Regions from separate parts of the Homo sapiens genome. Here all the other regions are linked to region 2. Evidence: fine-mapped expression QTL. A gene starts in region 2. Each other region holds a variant in brackets. All regions are shown on one strand. Distances are from middle to middle.

What was found.
Region 1: its variant is fine-mapped to the expression of NIN in fibroblasts (GTEx, PIP above 0.99).
Region 3: its variant is fine-mapped to the expression of NIN in T cells (TOPMed, PIP above 0.99).

What each region holds. Positions count from the first base shown.
Region 1 is chr14:50,761,877-50,764,639 of GRCh38, reverse strand. NIN (ninein) reads left to right here. Exons shown (of 31, transcript NM_020921.4): 15 at 676-814; 16 at 2,729-2,763. Among named protein-coding and RNA genes, the nearest start is that of NIN, 68 kb to the left of the region's middle. The variant C/G (reference allele first, on the strand shown) is at 1,107.
Region 2 is chr14:50,829,924-50,832,686 of GRCh38, reverse strand. It overlaps NIN (ninein), which reads left to right and starts at 1,525. Exons shown (of 31, transcript NM_020921.4): 1 at 1,525-1,681; 2 at 2,170-2,223. RefSeq lists silencers at 1,184-1,633, 1,684-1,963, 2,034-2,083, 2,104-2,223.
Region 3 is chr14:50,874,344-50,877,106 of GRCh38, reverse strand. All of the region lies in intron 1 of ABHD12B (abhydrolase domain containing 12B), which reads right to left. Among named protein-coding and RNA genes, the nearest start is that of ABHD12B, 3.7 kb to the right of the region's middle. RefSeq lists a silencer at 1,522-1,571. The variant G/A (reference allele first, on the strand shown) is at 1,594.

The DNA of each region.
Region 1 (2,763 bases), 68 kb after region 2:
CTTGAATAATATTCCATTGCGTAGATATACCACATTTTGTTTATTAATTCACCGGTTAAGGGACATTTGGGGGATTTTGGCTATTATGAGTAACGCAGCTATGAAAATTTGTGCGCACGTTTTTGTATGGGCATATATCTAGGAGTAGAATTGCTAGGTTGTATGGTAACCCTATGTTTAACCGTTTTAGGAACTGCTAAACTTCTTGCAAAGTGGTTGCACTGTTTTATATTCCCACTAGTATGATAGTTCCAATTGCTCCACTTCTTCACCAACAGTCGTTATTGTATGTCTTTTTGATTCTAGCCACCCTAGTAAGTGTGAAATGGTATCTTATTGTGGCTTTGATTTGTATTTCCCTGATAGGTAATGATATTGAATATCTTTTACATGTATGTATTAGTCATCTGTATATCATCATTAGAGAAATATCAATTCAGATCATTTGCCCATTTTTAAAATTGTCTTATTATTGAGCTATAATAGTCTTTATATATTCTAGTTACAAGTCCCTTATCAGATACTTAATTTGCAAAACATTTCTACTTTCTTGATAGTGTCCTTTGAAGCACAAAAGATTTTGTTTTGATGATATCCAATTTATCTTTTTTGTTGTTGTTGTTGCTTATGCTTTTGGTGTCACATCTAAGACCAGTGTTGGTTTTTAAATCCCAGGTACTACAAGACCAAGTAGATGAACTCCAGTCTGAGCTGGAAGAATATCGTGCACAAGGCAGAGTGCTCAGGCTTCCGTTGAAGAACTCACCGTCAGAAGAAGTTGAGGCTAACAGCGGTGGCATTGAGCCCGAACACGGTAAACACATTCGGACAGGCTGTAGATAAAGCCTTTACTCTTGTTTTTAGAAACGTGGTTCAATATAAAATTGCAAAGCTTTGGCAACTTGAAAAAAGAAAAAAAAAAAAAAGAATTTGGCCATACTCTTTTCTTGAGCTGTTTCACTTGTGGTCTCGTTTTTCATTTGTCCTTGAAGTTTTTATGAGAACATTTCCATCTGATTTTGATATGCGTCAACAAAGGAATGGAAGAATCAAACCACAAGGGTATTTGCTTTGTTAACAAAACAAACAAAAAACTGGCTGCAAAT[C/G]TGGGAATCCAGGCCTTGGGAGTGTTAGAATTCAGACACTGAGCTATTGCTGTCCTCTTCGAAGAGAGTGTGTAACTCATATGAAGATGGTTTTGGAGAGCAGGCCAGCCAGATACTACAGAATCCATAGCTGGTTTTCTTATACGGGCTGTGCTGAATGTCTGTATTGCCTCAGCAGAACAAAGAAGATAAATAAGGGCTGGCCTCCTGGCCTTTGAGGAAGATTTTGAGTGGCAAGTTTGGAAGGCAGAGTTTGGGAGCCTCCTGCATTAACTATGAGCTCCTTTCCTCTCTCCTGATAGCCTACCTCTTTTCTCGGGGGTGTTGAGTTTAAATTTCAGAGACAGCTCATAATCAGTTATTCTGTTATAAATAACTTTCCCCAGTGCTATTGGGGATAGGAGTGTCGTTCTTACACAGGTTGTTTATTCCTCCTCTTACTGCAGAATAATTAACAGATTGGGGAAGGAGGAGACAAAGAGGCCTTAAGACCTCCCCTCTGATTCTTAGCTCATTCCAGTCTGAGGATCTCATAATATGATATATCTCGGCAGCTGTTATGGACTTTTCCATAGATGGCCAAGTGTTGGGGTTGTTCCTCATGAGGACAAGAAGCTGTACCATCGTGGTGTGGCTCACACCCTGGGTGTTACTTCTCATTTGGGAATATGCCATCAAATATGAAGAGAAGACCCAAAGCAAGACTGCCAGTTGCAGCTGCTAGACATATACCCAAGAAAAGTTCCTTTCTTCCATCTGCCTGTGTATCCCCACATGCAAAGCTATTTTGGGTCCCACTGCCTTAAGAGATTAGTCATAATCTTTTCTTCTGTGTACAAGCTCAGCCCCCAACTTATGCTTCACATTTTCAGTGTCATTCTCAGTCATCGTCGTGGGCAGTTGCAGAGATGAGCTCATGCATGAGTTAAGAATTTCTACCCACAACTGCCTGTATCCTGGTTCCTAACCTATGCCCTGTTTTTTAAAATTTTAGCTGATAATATGCTAAAATTATGCTGATAATAGCTAAAATATGATAATTTTAGCCAATAATAGCTGATAAGATAAAATGGGGATCTACCCACACTCTAGGAAATTCATAGGAAATAGGCAGTCTTCTGTAATGCTGAGTGATGGGTTGTTGATAGTGTGACCCATGAAGCTAACTCCTCAGGGCATCGCAGCAAGTATGCTGGCCGTTCATTTTCCTGCCACATCGTCATTCAGTATTTGTTGGATGGGTAGGAGTCTGGTTGGTTTGACCAAACTACCTCATGCTATTACCTCAATTTGCAGCATTTGCATTAGGAGGTAGCTACCTATAAGCAACAATTTCCACCCCCGCCGCCCCACCACCTACTATTCTAAGAGATGGATTCTATTAAGGTTTTTTCCACTGCCTGTACATGAAAGAATCTGTTCACCTTCATTTCTTCTTGTTTGCCCTAACGCTTGAAAAGAGAAAAGACTTCTCTTGGCCTCTGTTATTTCCTATTAGTTCACATCTCTGGTAATTCAGGCTGAAAATCATTCCTTAGTTAAACTGGATGTCCCTCCTCAGATGCCACACTGTGTTATTGAAAGAACCTGCTGCAGGATCAATGAGTCCCATGTGTTTTCAGGGCTCGGTTCTGAAGAATGCAATCCATTGAATATG
Region 2 (2,763 bases):
TGTGTGTGTGTGTGTGTTGTATCATATTACTGGATGACTGAACAACCATGCATACAGTGTATGAGTGTGTGTTTGTGTGTGTATGTGTACTTATTCAAGACTGTTTAAAAAGGAGAGAGGAGCATAAATCTCTCTTATTCTGCAGGCACGCTTATATACCGTGTTGAAAGAAGAGAGCCTGGGCTTTTGAATAAGACTGAGATGTTTAAAATTTTTAAAAAAATTTTTTGAGGTAACTGTAAATTCGCTTGAAGTTGTAAGGAATAATAGAGAGATTCCCTATAGACGCTTCACTTAATTTTTCTCAATGGTAACATTTTGCATAACTGTAGAACAATATTACAATCAGTAAATGGACATTAGTGTAGTCCAAATGTCTTATTCAAATTTCATGAGTTTCACGTGCTCTCATTTGTGAGTGTATATTCAGTTCTATGCAATTTTGCCACATATGTGATCTGCTTTTGAATCTCAGTTCTGTGGAGTTCCTGCTGTGTGATCCTGAGGAAGCTCTTTGACTTCTGGGAGATCCATTTTCCTCATCTGCAAAATAATGTCTGCCTCCTAAGAGTGATGTGAGAATTAGATAAGATAATTTCTGTCGAGTTTCTAGCGCACTGGATTCTCAAGGAATGCTGGTTTCCTCTTGTCTGTTGCTTGCTTTCTCGGTAGAAAAGGAATCACCAGTTTCCTGCTAAAATAACCAGACTTGTGGGTTGTAATCCATCAGGCGGATCCTTCAAGGGCAACACATTTAACCCTGCAGCTCAAAAAGAACCATGGCCTGGACTTGGGATCCTATTTGACTGCAATGAGATCAGAAGTGTAGGGATGGGGGAGTGAGAACGCAGACTCTGGGGTAGTAGGTAGGAGGCGATTAATATCGAGCAACTGTTGGGCTGGGAACCACCAACTCCAAGGAGTTTTCGTCCTGTGTGGCTTGCGACCGAGGGTTAGCTTCACCCGGAGAAGGCTGCACAGGGGCGGGAGCCTGTGAGGACGTGGTGGGCAGGTGCGGAAGCCAGTGTAGACCCGGCAGGAGGGTCGCGCTCGCTCTACAGGGTTCCGAGTCACTTCTACAGCCCTTCTGCCTCCTGAACACCCTTTCCAATGTTGATGGCCAATCGACACCCGAGGGCTGGGAAATCACCCCCTTAAAGTCCCGCTTGCTGAAGGCGGGGGCCCTTCCTCTGCGCGAAGACGCTGCGGCCCGAGTGTCCGCGGTGCGGGTGAGTGTAGGCGTGTTGGGAAAGAAAGGGAGGCGGACAGGCAAGGGGCGAGGGTGGCAGCGCCAGCCCCAGCTCGGTGGCGACCTCGGGGCGCCAGCCTCCTACACCCGCACCCGGAGCCCCGGCGTTTCTAACTTCAGATCTCGGAGGCGGGCGCTCGGAGCGGGAGGGCGCGTCTGCGAGGGCTCAGGCGGCGCCGCCCGCTCCTCCCTCCGCTGCCTGAGCCGCGCGGGCCGCAGAGGAGGAGCCGCGCCGGGGCCGGCGTCGCCCTGACTCCTCCTCCCCGCGCGGGCCCGGCCCTTCCTCCCCGGCGTCCAGAGCTCCGGGTGGCCGCGGCCGAGCCGGGAGCCGAGCGCGCTGGGCGCGGCCGTCCCGCTGCCGCCGCCAAGCCCGGAGTGCGCCAGCGGCCATGGTTCCCGCGGCGGCGCCGGGCGCCTGAGCCCCGGGACGCAGTAAGTGGCGCAACCCCGGGGACCCGGACCCACGGCCTGGGGGTGCACGGAGGCCTCGCGCTGCCCCCGCGCCGTCGGCGAGGCCCTGAGAGCCCGGAGCGAACTGGGCACCGGATCACTCGGGGGCTTCCCATTTGGGGTCCGGGGCCAGCGGGGCGCAATCCCTGCGGGCCGGGAGGAAGCAGCGGCCGGGCGGGAGGACGAGGCGGGGACGGGGCTGCTTCGGAGGCGGGAGGAGGGGCCGGTCCCGGAGGCGCGGGCTGCGCGGGCGGGGGCGGGCCGGCGGGGGCGGGGAGGATGCGCGCTGCAGCCCGCGGCCCCCGAGAGCCGCGCTTTTGTAAGAGCTGGCCCCTTACATATGGAAATGACGCTCACGCGGGTCCCCATTCGCGTCCTTTTGAAGGACGCCCGCCCGGAACCGCTGCGCCGGCTGCGAAGTATTGTCCCGTTTCTCCAGCCCTAACAAAGCGTCCTCCTTCGCTTTGCAGAGCGCTGGAGGCGGGCTGCCGGCTGTGCGGGCGCTCCGGAGAGACCGACAGAAGGTAGGCGAGGGCGGCGGGGCCGGGGGAGCGCGCTGCCTGCCCACACAATGGGCTGTCTGAGGTTTCTGGTAGTGGCGATGGGCAGGCGAGTTGAGGACGCATCGCAGGTGGCCAGGGACTTGGGAGGCGCGCTTGTCCTGCGGCCGCACCTCCGCTTCCCCGCGCGGCAGCACCGCTGGGTTTGGGCACTTCCAGTACCCCCGACGCCCCGGCCGCCTGCCCGGAGCTGAAAGCCGCTTCTGTGCTTTGACCGAGAGCAGGCTTGAGTCCCCGAGGGAGCAGAAGGGGTGGTGGTTCCGTTGGCATGTGCCGCCCGTACAGCCTTGTGATTGAGACGCTGCAGAGGAAACTGCATGGGGAAATCCGAGGTGTTAGCCTGGGCTGTCTGAGTAGCGGAGAGCTGCTTGGAGCCCGGAAAGTGGAGATTTTTGGAGGTGTGCGGGGTCGATGCGCGTAAACAGTTTCCCAGTATAATGCCCAGGAGAAGGGGAAAGAACAAAATGACATTTGGTTATTGCCTAAAAGGTGTGGCATGGAGGT
Region 3 (2,763 bases), 44 kb before region 2:
CATCTTGCCTACGCTATTGTTCCCTGTGACACAAACCACCCAATCAGGAGCTGTCAGCACACAAGTGACGATTTGTCCATGAGGGGTCACTAAGGACACCTCTGTCTCAAGCCACCTCTCTTGTGAGGGTCTTAGAGAGGTGAGGGATACAGGAGGTCAATGTCATCACCTCCTGCTTCCAGTTTTTGCCCACATTATCCATTAAGTAAGTCCCTTTCCATGTTGTAAGAGATCATTGTTAAAACTGTTTAATATAATCAAATGGTAAGGTTGAGGGGCTGGAAAGCATTTTTGATAAATTGTCTCCCCTGCCCTGATTTCTATGCTAGACCAGAGGCATTTTTGGAAGATAATTATTACCTTTGCTTTGCAAATGAGACTGGAAAGTTAAGTAATCTTTCCAAGGTCACAAGTCAATGAATGGCAGAGCCACACATACCCAGGTCTGTCTGATCCCATAGTCTTATAATGATCTCCAGGATGTCACAGTCTTGGTGACATCCATGTAAGCAGAAATGAACCCCAGGAACAAAGCTGGCCTCTGGCAAAATTCTGCTCATAGACAATCTTGTTTTAAGATCTCCTTCTGCACCTTAGCCCTCTCAGCAGGGTCCCGTCCTTTCTTCTTTCCTCCTTCCTGCTCCTGTATTCTCAGGAGCCCTCTGATAACAAAGTCATCAAAGAAAGACCTCTAAAAAAATTAATTCCCCCTGAAGTGTTAATGACTTAAAAATCAGAGCACTTATATGTGTTTGGAAGAGGCACGAAGAGAGAAGATAATGAATCTCTGATGAATTTCCAGCAGTTCTGCAAGAAGTGGAAAAGATATGTGGGCTAAGGGTAATGGATAGATTTTTGAATACATCATACGCTGGCAATTGCCTACTCATAAAATCAGCAAGAAAGAAATGAAAATGATTGTTTCATAATACTTTAAAATAGCACCCCACCACCCCTGCCATGAAGGCGGCAGGAAGGAGAGGACATTGTTGTTCTGATTTTAGAGATAAGAAATCAAAACCCAGAGAAGCCACTTTGAGCCACAGATCAAGCCCAAATGGACAGAACTGAACCCAAGGCTGAACTGTGCCTCCTTCCAGCTGCTGGCTCCTGCTGGCTTCCTTCTAAGCTCCCCTCACTCACCTCCACCCTGCCTGTTAGTCTCCAGCTAAGCTGTCTTTTGAAGGTAGGCAGGGTAGTCTCCCGCTAAGCTATGTTTTGAAGGTCTGCTTGGGAAGCAGAGGCAGTAGAGGGAAATGTGTGTCTGTTTTTTAAGGAATAATTCATACACAGTCCTTCTCTCAAATAGCTCGAGGCACTTTTCTGAGATGCACTGCGGGAAGAGAACAGAGTGACCAGATCCTCAGAGCATCAATAATGCAAAGCAGCTTCTTTTAACTAAGGGGTTGTCAATTTGACTTCCCCTAGATCAGTAAGGGATCAAAAGTCACCAGTGGCTAATAGACCTTATTTGAGCAGAGGATGCAGTTTCAGCCCAATCCCCGCTAACGGCCAGCCACATCAAACGGCCACCTTGGTGCTTTGGTGTTCTTTCACTTGCCCTTTGATCAGCTGCAGCTGTAACCACACAGC[G/A]TCCCACAGGGGACTCAGAACCTAACTGGATGATTCTTACTGGTGAAAGCTGGTGGAGTCTGAGCTGCTACAGGGTGAATCACTCATGCTCAGAGGTTTCTGCAAACCAACTTTGGGAAGCCCAAATCTAACTACATTTACTATTTCAAATATTAAGACAGGTACCTTCAACCTGTGTGCCAATTCACTCAGTCGACATGTGTTTGTCACCAAGCACCGGGAGACATCCTCCCAACCAAATCCCCTCTTCCTTCACACCCATGGAAGTATCTCTTTTTTGTCAAAGTCTCCTGGAGAGATCATTCCATGGTGACCTCTCCTCTCTTGTCTTTCCTCCCACAAATAATAACGGGGCCTCAGCTGGCCTTGAATTGTTCTGTGATGGCTTTCCCATTATTAGCCCTGTCTTCTCCACTCTATCAGGCCACAGACAACAAGAACAACATGGCATAGAATGCTTCCTTTACATTTCCCTCTGTCTAGCCCAGGGCTGAGCTCAGTAAATATTGACGCATAGGTTGAAAATAGAAAGAGAGTGCATTTATTTTGTAAGGGAGAAGGAAGCAACATTTATTGGTAGCTTCAGAGGAAAGAGGAAGGACTTCATTTTCTTTTTTTTACTTACAATTGCAAATGAATCAATGTGTGCTCCACAGAGCAAGGATTTTGTCTGTTTTATTTACTGCTGTGTGACCAAGACTAGAATACTATCCAATAGATAATAAAGAACCAACGCTGTGGAAAGAATGAACACATTTATCAGCCTACTCCTGCACATTTTCTGAGCACTATCTAGGATTGTAATGACTTGGGGTGGAATGGGGGAAATGAGGAGGAAAATAAACCTTTGGTTTCCCCCAACTTCCTTCTGGAGCACATTTTCCATTTTTCTTTTTTTATTATTATTTTTTTTTGAGACGGAGTCTCGCTCTGTCACCCAGGCTGGAGTGCAGTGGTGCGATCTCGGCTCACTCCAACCTCCGCCTCCCAGGTTCAAGCAATTCTCCTGCCTCAGCCTCCGGAGTAGCTGGGACTACGGGCATGTGCCACCACGCCTGGCTAATTTTTTGTATTTTTAGTAGAGACAGGGTTTCACTGTGTTAGCCAGGATGGTCTCCATCTCCTGACCTCATGATCTGCCCGCCTTGGCTTCCCAAAGTGCTGGGATTA